Homo sapiens: one gene and its partners. The protein of the gene in region 2 purifies or fractionates together with the protein of the main gene of each other region. This does not show direct contact. Each region holds a gene or a part of one and is shown on either strand. Other genes may lie near its edges. The genes, in order: AP3S2, AP3M1 and RABL6.

Region 1 (3,751 bases), on a different chromosome or scaffold from region 2:
TGAAGTGCAGTGCCACGATCTTGGCTCACTGCAGCCTCTGCCTCCTGGGTTCAAGCAATTCTCCTGCCTCAGCCTCCTGAGTAGCTGGGATTACAGGCATGCACCACCACGCCTGGCTAATTTTTGTATTTTTAGTAGAGACGAGGTTTCACCATGTTGGCCAGGCTGATATCCAATTCCTGACCTTAAGTGATCCCCCTGTCTTGGCCTACCAAAGTGCTGGGGTTACAGACGTGAGCCACTGTGCCCGGCCTCTGTCTTATTTTCTCATCTTTTCTCTCCCATTTTCCATCTCTGCCCATTCTGAGACAATTGATTAACTTGATTTTCTAATACTTCAGTTGAAGTGGGTTTTTGTTTGTTTCCATTTCCTCTCATTTTTTATTTCTAAGAGACCATTTTGTTCATTTTGTGTGAGCAACAAGGCTGTGAGTGTTTTTGTTTAGCACCCATTTAGCAATAAGACATAAATGGGTCTTATTTTATTTCTAATTAATAAATGGGTCTTATTATTATTTAAAATAAATGTCTTATTTCTCTGTGGCTTTTTTTTTTTTTTTTTTTTTTGAGACAAGGTCTCACTCTGTCACCCAGGCTGGAGTGCTGTGGTGTGATCTCAGAACACTGCAGCCTCAGCCTCCCGGGTGCAGGTGATTCTCCTGCCTCAGCCTCCTGAGCAGCTGGGACTACAGGTATGTGCCACCATGCCTGGCTAAAATACTTCGTATTTTTAGTAGAGATAGGGTTTCACCATGTTGGCCAGGCTTTCTCTGTAGCTTAAGAATAGGGTTTTGGGTTTTTTTTTTTTTTAAACTGTTTTCCTTTCTTTATATGGTGTCCATTTTTAAGTTGCTTTTTATTGTTTGTTCATTTTATCTCCTTCTTCTATGTTAGAGGTTTTCCGCAGATGTCTGATAATCCTTTGTTTTTCATTTGTTACAAGAATAAAAGGCTGATTGAAAGCTCTACAATCATGGATATTTCTTGCCCACCTCCATGGTTATTTGCTTCCCTAGCGAAATCTGTCTCACGTGTCCATGTGAAGAGACCACCAAACAGGCTTTGTGTGAGAAACAAGGCTGTTTATTTCACCTGGGTGCAGTCTTTCTAGGTATCAAAATTCATTGTAAAGCTTTGTTAACTAAAATAGTATAATACTAAGGCTGGGTGAGGTGGCTCATGCCTATAATCCCAACACTTTGGGCAGCCAAGACAGGAAGATCCCTCGAGCCCAGGAGTTTGAGACCAGCCTGGGCAACATAGCAAAACATCGTCTCCACAAAAAAATAAAAATAAAAAAATTAGCCAGGCATAGTGGCACACACCTGTAGTCCCAGCTACTTGGAAGGCTGAGGTGGGAGGATTGCTTGAGCCCAGGAATTCAAGGTTGCAGTGAATTATCATTGCACCACTGCATTCCAGCCTGAGTGACATACCAAGACCTTGTCTCTAAATAAATTTTAAAAATAAAATAAAAGTATAATTCTAAGATGGGAATATAGATCAGTGGGGCAGAATATAAATTACTGAAACATACATGTTTATAAAATGCAATTTTAAAAATAAGAGTCGTATTTTAAGTTGGTGGGGAAAAGACAAGCTAACTGATAATGTTGGAACAGTTATCCTTTGGGGGAAAAATAAAGTTACATATTTCAATGCAGACATAAAAATATCTAACAGATATTAATGAGCTAAATGTAAAAAAATAAATTAAAAAAGCAACGGCAGATCCCCTGGGTGCCATCCAGGCCCCCGGAAGGAGCTATTCAGTCTGTGGCAAAGCTTTGAGGTGGCTGGTACTGCTAAAAGCGGCACGTGGAGGTGCCCCCTAGCGGCCTGAGCTCTGTTCTGCGGCAGCCAGAGCACATGCGAGGAGAGCCAGACCACAGTTTGCAGCAGCACCATCCCAAAAGGCTGTTTTCATTAAAGATGTTTCATGAAACTAAGACTGGGTTCTCAAGATAGGGTAGTTATCCAGGACAAGATGGACTAGCCCCAGAAAAAGACATCCCCAGATAGTGGGTGGAAAAAGAACTGTCAGATGCATCTGTTTTTCTTACTCAAAATATTATTCAAGATCACAATCAAGGTCAAGAGAAAGAAAACAAGAAAGAAAACGAAGGACGAAAACACAAAGCGCATGCTGATGGGCAAAGAGGCTGAACTGAAGACATTGCAGACTCAGGTAGGAAAATAATAAGCCTATTTCATGATGAGGCAAGAAGACAGGAATCCTACAACAAATCCTCTAAGAAATACACTTCTGAGGAGCATAATGACAAAGAACATTATTCTGATAAAGGAAGAGAGGGACTAAATTCATCTGAAAATGGGCTGGGCGCAGTGACTCACGTCTGTAGTCTCAGTACTTCGGAAGGCCAAGGTGGGCAAATTGCTTGGGCTCACAAGTTTGAGACCAGCTTGAGCAACATGGCAAAGCCCTGTCTCTATAAAAAACACAAAAGTTAGCCAGGCGTGGTGGTGTGTGCCTGTGATTCCAGCTACTCGGGAGGCTGTGGTGAGAAGCTTGAGCCGGGGAGACAGAGGTTACAGTGAGCTGTGATTGTGCCACTGCACTCCAGCCTGGGCAACAGAGTGACATGCTGTCTCAATAAATAAATACATTCATCTGAAAATGATGAGGACAGACACAAACACAAAGAAAGCCATCAAGAAGCAGAAGTCACTCAAGATACAGGTCTCGTGAAAGGCATCATCGTAGTAGAGGGAAAAGAAGTAGTCTCAATCCAGAAGCAGAGAGAAGAACGATCATGATCTAGAAGCAGGAAAAGAAAACCATGGGCTGGACATGGTGCTTCACACCTGTAATCCCAGCACTTTGGGAGGCCAAGTCAGGCAGATCACCTGAGATTCAGGAGTTTGAGACCAACCTGGCCAACATGGCAAAACCCTGTCTCTACTAAAAATGCAAAAATTAGCCAGGCGTGGTGATGCATGTCTGAGGTCCCAGCTACTTGGGAGGCTGAGGCAGGAGAATCACTTGAACCCAGGAGGTGGAGGTTTCAGTGAGCTGAGGTCACACCACTGCACTCCAGCCTGGCCAACAGAGTGAGACGCCGTCTCCAAAAAGGAAAGAAAAAAAAAAGAAAGAAAGAAAACCATGGATCAGATCTTGCTCCTGTTCAAGATAAAAACTACATCTGTGTTGCGTGTGAAAAATAAGTAAATAAATAAATATGACATGCATAGGAAAGAAGCAGAAGTAGTACAGGAAGCAGAAGACAAGAGAGAAAGAAGAGCATTGAGAAACTAAGATTTAGCAGAAGTTTAAGCCAGATTTCCAGTTCATCTCTCTTCAGAGGCAGAGGCACAGCAAAGGATGCATAAGAAGCTTTAGCTGGGAGGATGGACTAGGCAAAGAAATTACAAGAACAGCAAGAAAAAGAAATAGTTGGGATGGGTGTTGGGAAAAAATTTTTTAAAAGAAAAAGAAATCATTGAAAAACAAAAACAAGAAATAGCTCCAGTTACTAGAGATTTTGTTCTCAATGTTGCTGCCCTGTTGGCATCAGGAATGCCAGTAACTCAGATAGCTATGGCAGCTCAAATGGGAGCCCTGCAAGCAACAGCTTTGGCAGAGACAGAACAGCTGTACCTAGGGATTATGACACAGCAGCTGGAAATCCAGTGAAATTTGCTGAACAAGAGGAAAAAAGTCAAGGCAAGAAAAACTGGGCAAACTCCCCGTCTGCTGAACTATGACTTTGGGAAACAAGGACCAAAATGT
Region 2 (3,751 bases):
ATAGGTGCGTGCCATGACACCTAGCCCAACAATCACTACATCTAGAACAATAGAGATACCCTCTGGGTGTCAGATTAACTGAAGCTTTACATCTCTATTAACAGGTCAGGGGACAAGGTCCATACTTAACTCTGGCTGGAATATAATAATAATTCTTTTATTTTTAAGAGATAAAGTCTGACTAGCTAGTCCCAGCTGGTCCCCAGAGTAACTGAGACTACAGGTATGCCACTGTAGAATATAATTTTTTTTTTTTTGAGACAGGGTCTTGCTCTGTCACCCAGGCTGGAGCGTAGTGGTGCTATGATAGCCAGCCTCAACCTCCTGGGCTCAAGCAATCCTCCCACCTCAGCCTCCCAAGCAGCTGGTACTACAGGCATGCACCTCCACGCCTGGCTAATTTTTGTATTTTTTTTGTAGAGACAGGGTCTTGTTATGTTGCCCAGGCTGGTCTCAAACTTCTGGGCTCAAGCAATCCGCCTACCTTAGCTTCCCAAAGTGCTGGGATTACAGGTGTGAGCTACCATACCCAGCCAGAATATGCTAATTCTAAGGAAAATTAAACTGTTTCCTTTATGGAGCCAACCCTGTAAGATGACTGGATATGAGTTTAAAACATTTGGCAGGACGCAGTGGCTCATGCCTGTAATCCTAGCACTTAGGGAGGCTGACGTGGGTAGATTATCTGAGCTCAGGAGTTTGGGACCAGCCTGGGCAACATGGCAAAACCCCGTTTCTACTAAAAATACAAAAAATTAGCCAGGCGTGGTGGTGTGTGCGTGTAGTCCCAGCTACTTGGGAGGCTGAGGCAGGAGAATCGCTTGAACGTAGAAGGCGGAGGTTGCAGTGAGCTGAAACCACAACACTGCACTACAGCCTGGGCGACAATGTGAGACTCTGTCTCAAAAACAAAATAAAACAAACCAACCAAAACCATTTTCAATAGAATTTTATTTTTTTTTAATTTTTTTTTTGAGACGGAGTCTTGCTCTGTCACCCAGGCTGGATGGAGTGCAGTGGCGCTATCTGGGCTCACTGCAAGCTCTGTCTCCCGGGTTCACGCCATTCTCCTGCCTCAGTCTCTCGAGTAGCTGGGACTACAGGCGCCTGCCACCACACCCAGCTAATTTTTTGTATTTTTAGTAGAGATGGGGTTTCACTGTGTTAGCCAGGATGGTCTGGATCTCCTAACCTCGTGATCCACCCGCCTCAGCCTCCTAAAGTGCTGGGATTACAGGTGTGAGCCACCGCGCCCGGCTTCAATAGAATTTTAAAATGTGGCAAGTGTATTATGAAATGGACTAAGTTAACTTTTAAGAAATAGGATCCATAATAGAAAGATATCTCTTTTTTTTTAAGAGACAGGGTCTCCCTCTGCCATCCAGGCTGGAGTACAGTGGTGTGAACATAGTTCACCACAGCATTGAACTCCTGGGCTCAAGCAATCCTCCTGCCTCAGCCTTCTGAATAGGTAGGATTAAGGAAGCCATGCCTAGCTAATCTTTTAAATTTTTGATAGATATGGGGTCTTGCTATGTTGCCTAGGCTGGTCTTGAACTCCTGGGCTCAAGTGATCTTCCTGCCTAAGCCTCCCAAAGTGCTGGGATTACAGGTGTGAGCCACCGTGCCTGGCAAAAATCTATTATTCTATAAGATGGAATGTTATAATGAAAAGGGGACTCATGGAAGAGAAGATATTGACTATAATTCACAATAAGCCATCATTACATATTAACAAGTTGTGTGACCTGGAACAGTTCACTTAACCCTTCTGGGCTTTCCTTATGTGTAAAATAAATGTAAAGGAAGGACTAGATTTTTTTTCTTTTTTCTTTTTTTGTTTTTTTAGAGATGGAGTCTCACTCTGTCACCCAGGCTGGAGTGCAGTGGTGCAATCTTGGCTCACTGCAACCTCTGCCTCCCAGGGTCAAGCAATTCTCCTGCCTCAGCCTCCCAAGTAGCTGGGTTTACAGGCGCCTGCCACCACGCCCAGCTAATTTTTGTATTTATAGTAGAGACGGGGTTTTACCATGTTGGCCAGGCTGGTCTCAAACTCCTGACCTCAAGTGATCTGCCTGCCTCGGCCTCCCAAAGTGCTGGAATTACAGGCGTGATCCACCATGCCCGGCTGCTATTTTTAATAATAAAATTTTACGATTCTTATAGAGTACTATTGTTTTGTCTGGTTAAAAAGATAATCAGATTGGGTGTGGTGGCTGATGCCTGTAATCCCAGCACTTTGGGAGGCTGAGGTAGGTAAACTGATTGAGCCCAGGAGTTCAAGACCAGCCTGGGCAACATGGTGAGACCCTGTCTGTACAAAAAAAACAAATAAAAGTTAGCCAGGCATGGTGGCGTGTGGCGTGTACCTCCTGATTGGCTGGGACTATAGGCTACTCAGGAGTTTGAGGTAGGAGGATCACATGAGCTGGAGGTCAAGGCTACAGTAAGCAGGGACTGCGCCAATGCACTCCAGCCTAGGCAAAAGAGCAAGACCCTGTACTTAAAAAAAAAAAAGAAAGTGAAAAATAATCAGATAGGGGCTTTTACCAGAAGTACTGCACATAATGTAGTAGCAAAAGCATGGTATATAGCAGATTTTCAATAAATGTTAGAAGGAATAAATAGCAAGAGGTAGAGGTACATAGGGTAATAATTGGCTTAAAGTAAGGCATTATGAGTTCTGATTTACATGTTTGGCAGACCTCAACTAGTGGTTATGAAAATTATATGTAACCTATGGGCAAAATAAACAGATTTATGGGCCAGGTGCAGTGGCTCACGCCTGTAATCCCAGCCCTTTGGGAGGCCAAGGCAGGTGGATCACTTGAGGTTAGGAGCTTGAGACCAGCCTGGCCAACATTGTGAAACCCCGTCTCTACTAAAAATACAAAAAATTAGCCAGGGCCGGGAGCGGTGGCTCACGCCTGTAATCCTAACACTTTGGGAGGCCGAAACGGGCAGATCACCTAAGTTCAGGAGTTCGAGACCAGCCTGACCAACGTGGAGAAATCCCATCTCCACCAAAAACACAAAATTAGCTGGGCATGCTGGTGCATGCCTGTAATCCCAGGTACTCGGGAGGCTGAGGCAGAAGAACTGCTTGAACCCGGGAGGCGGAGGTTGCGGTGAGCTGAGATTGCACCATTGCACTCCACCCTGGGCAATAAGAGTGAAACTGCGTCTCAAAAAAAAAAAAAAAATTTAGCCAGGTGTGGTGGCTCATGCCTGTAATCCCAGCTACTTGGGAAGCTGAAGCAGCAGGATCGCTTGAATCCAGGAGGTGAAGGTTCCAGTGAGCCAAGATCATGTGATTGCACTCCAGCCTGGACAACAGTGTGAGACCCCGTCTCAAATAAATAAATAAATAAACAAACAGATTTAAAAATCATCAGATAATGAATGCCTTTCCACCGAAACCATACTGCCAAAGGACTTCAATTTTCTTTTCCTTTCTTCTTCTTTTTTTTTTTTTTGTTGAGACAGAGCCAGGCTGGAGTGCAATGGCATGATCTTGTCTCATTGCAACCTCTGCCTCCTGGGTTCAAGCAATTTTCCTGCCTCAGCCTCCCGAGTAGCTGGGATTACAGGTGCGCGCCACCATGCCCGGCTAATTTTTTGTATCTTTAGTAGAGACAGAGTTTCACCATGTTGGCCAGGCTGGTCTCGAACTCTGACCTCATGTTCCGCCTGCCTTGGCCTCCCAAAGGGCTGGGATTACAGGCGTGAGCCACCGCGCCCGGCCAGGACT
Region 3 (2,891 bases), on a different chromosome or scaffold from region 2:
GCAGGACCTACCCCATTCTGCACTGTTCAAAGCAGGGCCCACTGAAACCCCAACATAGCCGTCCATGGTGTGATCCTGTCAAGTTCACGTACTGTCGACCCATCCCCACACCAGGCGAACCCCTGAACCCGGCCCTGACCTCATGGGCTGTGGGCTAAGGGGCCAGGCTAAGCTTGCTGTGGGCCACAGCACCTGCTCAGGGACTGCAGTGACTGCCCAACACCCTGGGGCCACAAGGCTCCCAGGCAGAGGAGCCTCCAGCTTGGCCACCTCCTCCCCTTCACTGGCACACTCTTCCTGCCTGCCCTGCAGGGTTCTCATGGCAACAGTAGCTGTGGGGGTGGAGGCTGGGCGCTGCTGACAGCTGGAGGGGGCAGGAGCCTGAAGGCGGGGGGCAGGGCTGCAGGCGGCTGCCTGGGAGCCTTGCAGAGTGGACTTCCACCTCCTGGGGCTGAGGTCGCCAAGCGTGCTGCGTGCAGCTGCTGAGCCCTGGCACAGGTGGGCTGGAATGTACCCAGGGTGTGGCCAGACTTGGTGGGACGTCCTCACACCACTGCTGGGCAGCCTCCTGCCAACCCACGGCAGCCTGGGCCCGGGGCAGCGGGAGCAGAGGTACAGGCAGAAGAACAGACACACGCAGAGTGAAACAGGAGTGCTTTATGGTCTGAGTGGAGTGTTTGGGAGGAGTGCCTCCCGGCTCCTGCCTTCGGGCTCACCTGAGCGGGGGCGCAGCTGAGGCCACTGTGGGAAACACAACCCCCACTCCCAGGAGAGGCCTCACATGCTGCCTTCGGTCTCGCCAGCCTTCTAGCGTGGGGCCTGGGCCGCCCTTTAGGGTGAGTCTGCACACCCGTGTTCAGGGCTCCCGGCCGGAAGCGGAACCATAGGCATGCTGCGGCCCCAGATGAGCGCGGAGGGCAAGCAGGTGCCGGGGCAGCGCACACCCCACAGCCAAGCGGCCCCTGCCCAGCCTCTGTAAACAGACCCTCACAGGTCCCTCCTGGGCCTCAGTCACATCCCTGAGAAACACTGGCGGCTCTGCCCCGAGAGGGCCAGGGTGTCCACCGAGCCTGGCTGAAGCCAGCTGTCCCCTCCCTTCTTGCAGAGCAGGCTCACACTGGGCCTGAAGGCCCAGCACCTGCAGGGCCCAGCCTGGGGACCACCAATGCCCGGCCTCTTCCAGCTCAGAAGCGCACACGGCAGCCACGGGGCAGCGGCAAAGGCGATGGTACAGAGGCAAATGCCTCCCCAGGCAGTGACAGGCACGCCCCCCGCCCCAGGGCGGCCACTGCCCACGCCGGCCTAGAGCTCCTCGTAGTCGCCACCCCCAGGGTGGCGGCCGCCCGGGGCCCCGCCCCCCAGGAAAGCCTCCAGCTCATCGGCAGCCGTCCTCTCCCTGCTGCGCGGGGGCCGCTGCTGCCGCCGTCGCCGCTCCTCCTTGCCCTCCTCCTTGTCCTTGCTCTTCTTGTGTTTGCTCTTCTTCTTGGCAGCTTTTTCTTCTTCCTGAGGAGCACAAGGATGGGGCGCCATGGAGTCACAGGAAGCCACAGCCCTGGTCCCAGGACCGCATGCCACCCAGTCCTGGCCTGCCAGGAAGGGGAGTAGCCAGTACCTCTTTGCCTTTTTTCTTCTTCTTCTTCTTCTCCTTAGAGGGGGTTTTGCCCTCCTTACCTGCACAGACAGGACAGACAGTGGCTCAAACTCAGGCCAACGGGGACCCCAAGCTGGGTGACAGGACTTCTCTAGAAACTCACAAAGCAGCGAGCCCCAGCCCTCCAGGAGGCCCTGCTGATGGACAGGACCACACTGCAAACATCAGCTCCTGCAGGGGGCTGCCAGGAGCATGGCACAGCATCCTGGACTCAGGAGAGGACCCCGGCCAGCGGCCAGCAGCTGGGAGGAGGCCCACGTTCTACCCAAACTCCAGCAGGCTGACCGCACTCTGGTGCCCCCACCCACCTTCCTCACTGCTCTCCTTGGGTCCGGCCTCCTCCAGCCCCAGCCCGAAGAGGTCCGAGTCATTCTTCAGTCTGAAGGCGGGGAGAGGGAGCTTGGGGGGTGGGGGCGGCTCGGCAGGGCCCTCATCCTCGTCAGTCACATCGGAGGGGTCATCTCGCACGGGAAAGTCATCCTGGAGCAGGGAGAGCAACTGGTCAGGCCATCATCCCTCCCACACCCCCAGGGGTTGTGGGATCTCAAACCAGGCCGGCAAGGCCCAAGTGTGGGGACATGAGATGCCTCTTCCAGAAGCCTCCTCCCACTGCACCCACCCAGATCAGGCCTGTGGGAGGGACCCTGGCCACCTGGCTGACCTCTGCCCCGGGAGGACTCGTCTTACCGCCCTGCGCTGTGTGTCTGATCCCTCGCTCTCAAAGTCGGGGTCATCCATGACGAAGGACAGCATTTGTGCAGCAATGGGTCCCTCGGGGTCACTCTCCGACGAGGAGGCCTGCTCACCCTTCCCCGGCTCCATCTCAGCAGGGGGCCTGGTGCTGCTGCGCTTCTCCGGACCTGTGCGAACAGAGACACCGCCTGGCCAGGGGGGTGCTGCGGTCCTCGTGGGAGCTGTCCCCCTCCGTGGCTTCGAAGCTGGTATGGAGGACCTTTGTGGACAAGCAGAGGGTCAGTCAGGGTCCTCTGGAGGCGTCCTGAACTGCCCCACCCGGGTCTCCAGGCCGCACCCGTGGGGACACCTGCCCTTACCACTTGGTCTCTGGCTCTGAGCACTGCTGGGGAGCTGGGGCAGGGCCTTTTGTGGGAGCTGCCACTTCTGCTTCCTCCTCACTCGAAAGAGTGATGTCTTGACTGGGGACGGGGCCTGCAGGCAGCGGGGGACTCCCACGTGGCTGGTCTTCGAGGTCCACATCGTCCTGGAACCCTGCCACCATCGG

Evidence for each region.
Region 1: the proteins of AP3M1 (region 2) and AP3S2 purify together in Homo sapiens (co-immunoprecipitation; 4 studies listed by BioGRID and IntAct, with this or other methods). This does not show direct contact.
Region 3: the proteins of AP3M1 (region 2) and RABL6 purify together in Homo sapiens (co-immunoprecipitation; 4 studies listed by BioGRID and IntAct, with this or other methods). This does not show direct contact.

What each region holds. Positions count from the first base shown.
Region 1 is NC_000015.10:89,873,332-89,877,082, forward strand, and holds part of AP3S2 (AP-3 complex subunit sigma-2), read right to left. Parts: exon of another isoform or gene 3,462-3,751; intron 1-3,461. UniProt on the Homo sapiens protein: Part of the AP-3 complex, an adaptor-related complex which is not clathrin-associated. The complex is associated with the Golgi region as well as more peripheral structures.
Region 2 is NC_000010.11:74,130,208-74,133,958, forward strand, and holds part of AP3M1 (AP-3 complex subunit mu-1), read right to left. Parts: intron 1-3,751. UniProt on the Homo sapiens protein: Part of the AP-3 complex, an adaptor-related complex which is not clathrin-associated. The complex is associated with the Golgi region as well as more peripheral structures.
Region 3 is NC_000009.12:136,838,934-136,841,824, reverse strand, and holds the end of RABL6 (rab-like protein 6), read right to left. Parts: coding exon 2,704-2,891; intron 2,604-2,703; coding exon 2,339-2,603; intron 2,132-2,338; coding exon 1,960-2,131; intron 1,672-1,959; coding exon 1,613-1,671; intron 1,504-1,612; coding exon 1,303-1,503; 3' UTR 638-1,302; downstream 1-637. UniProt on the Homo sapiens protein: May enhance cellular proliferation. May reduce growth inhibitory activity of CDKN2A.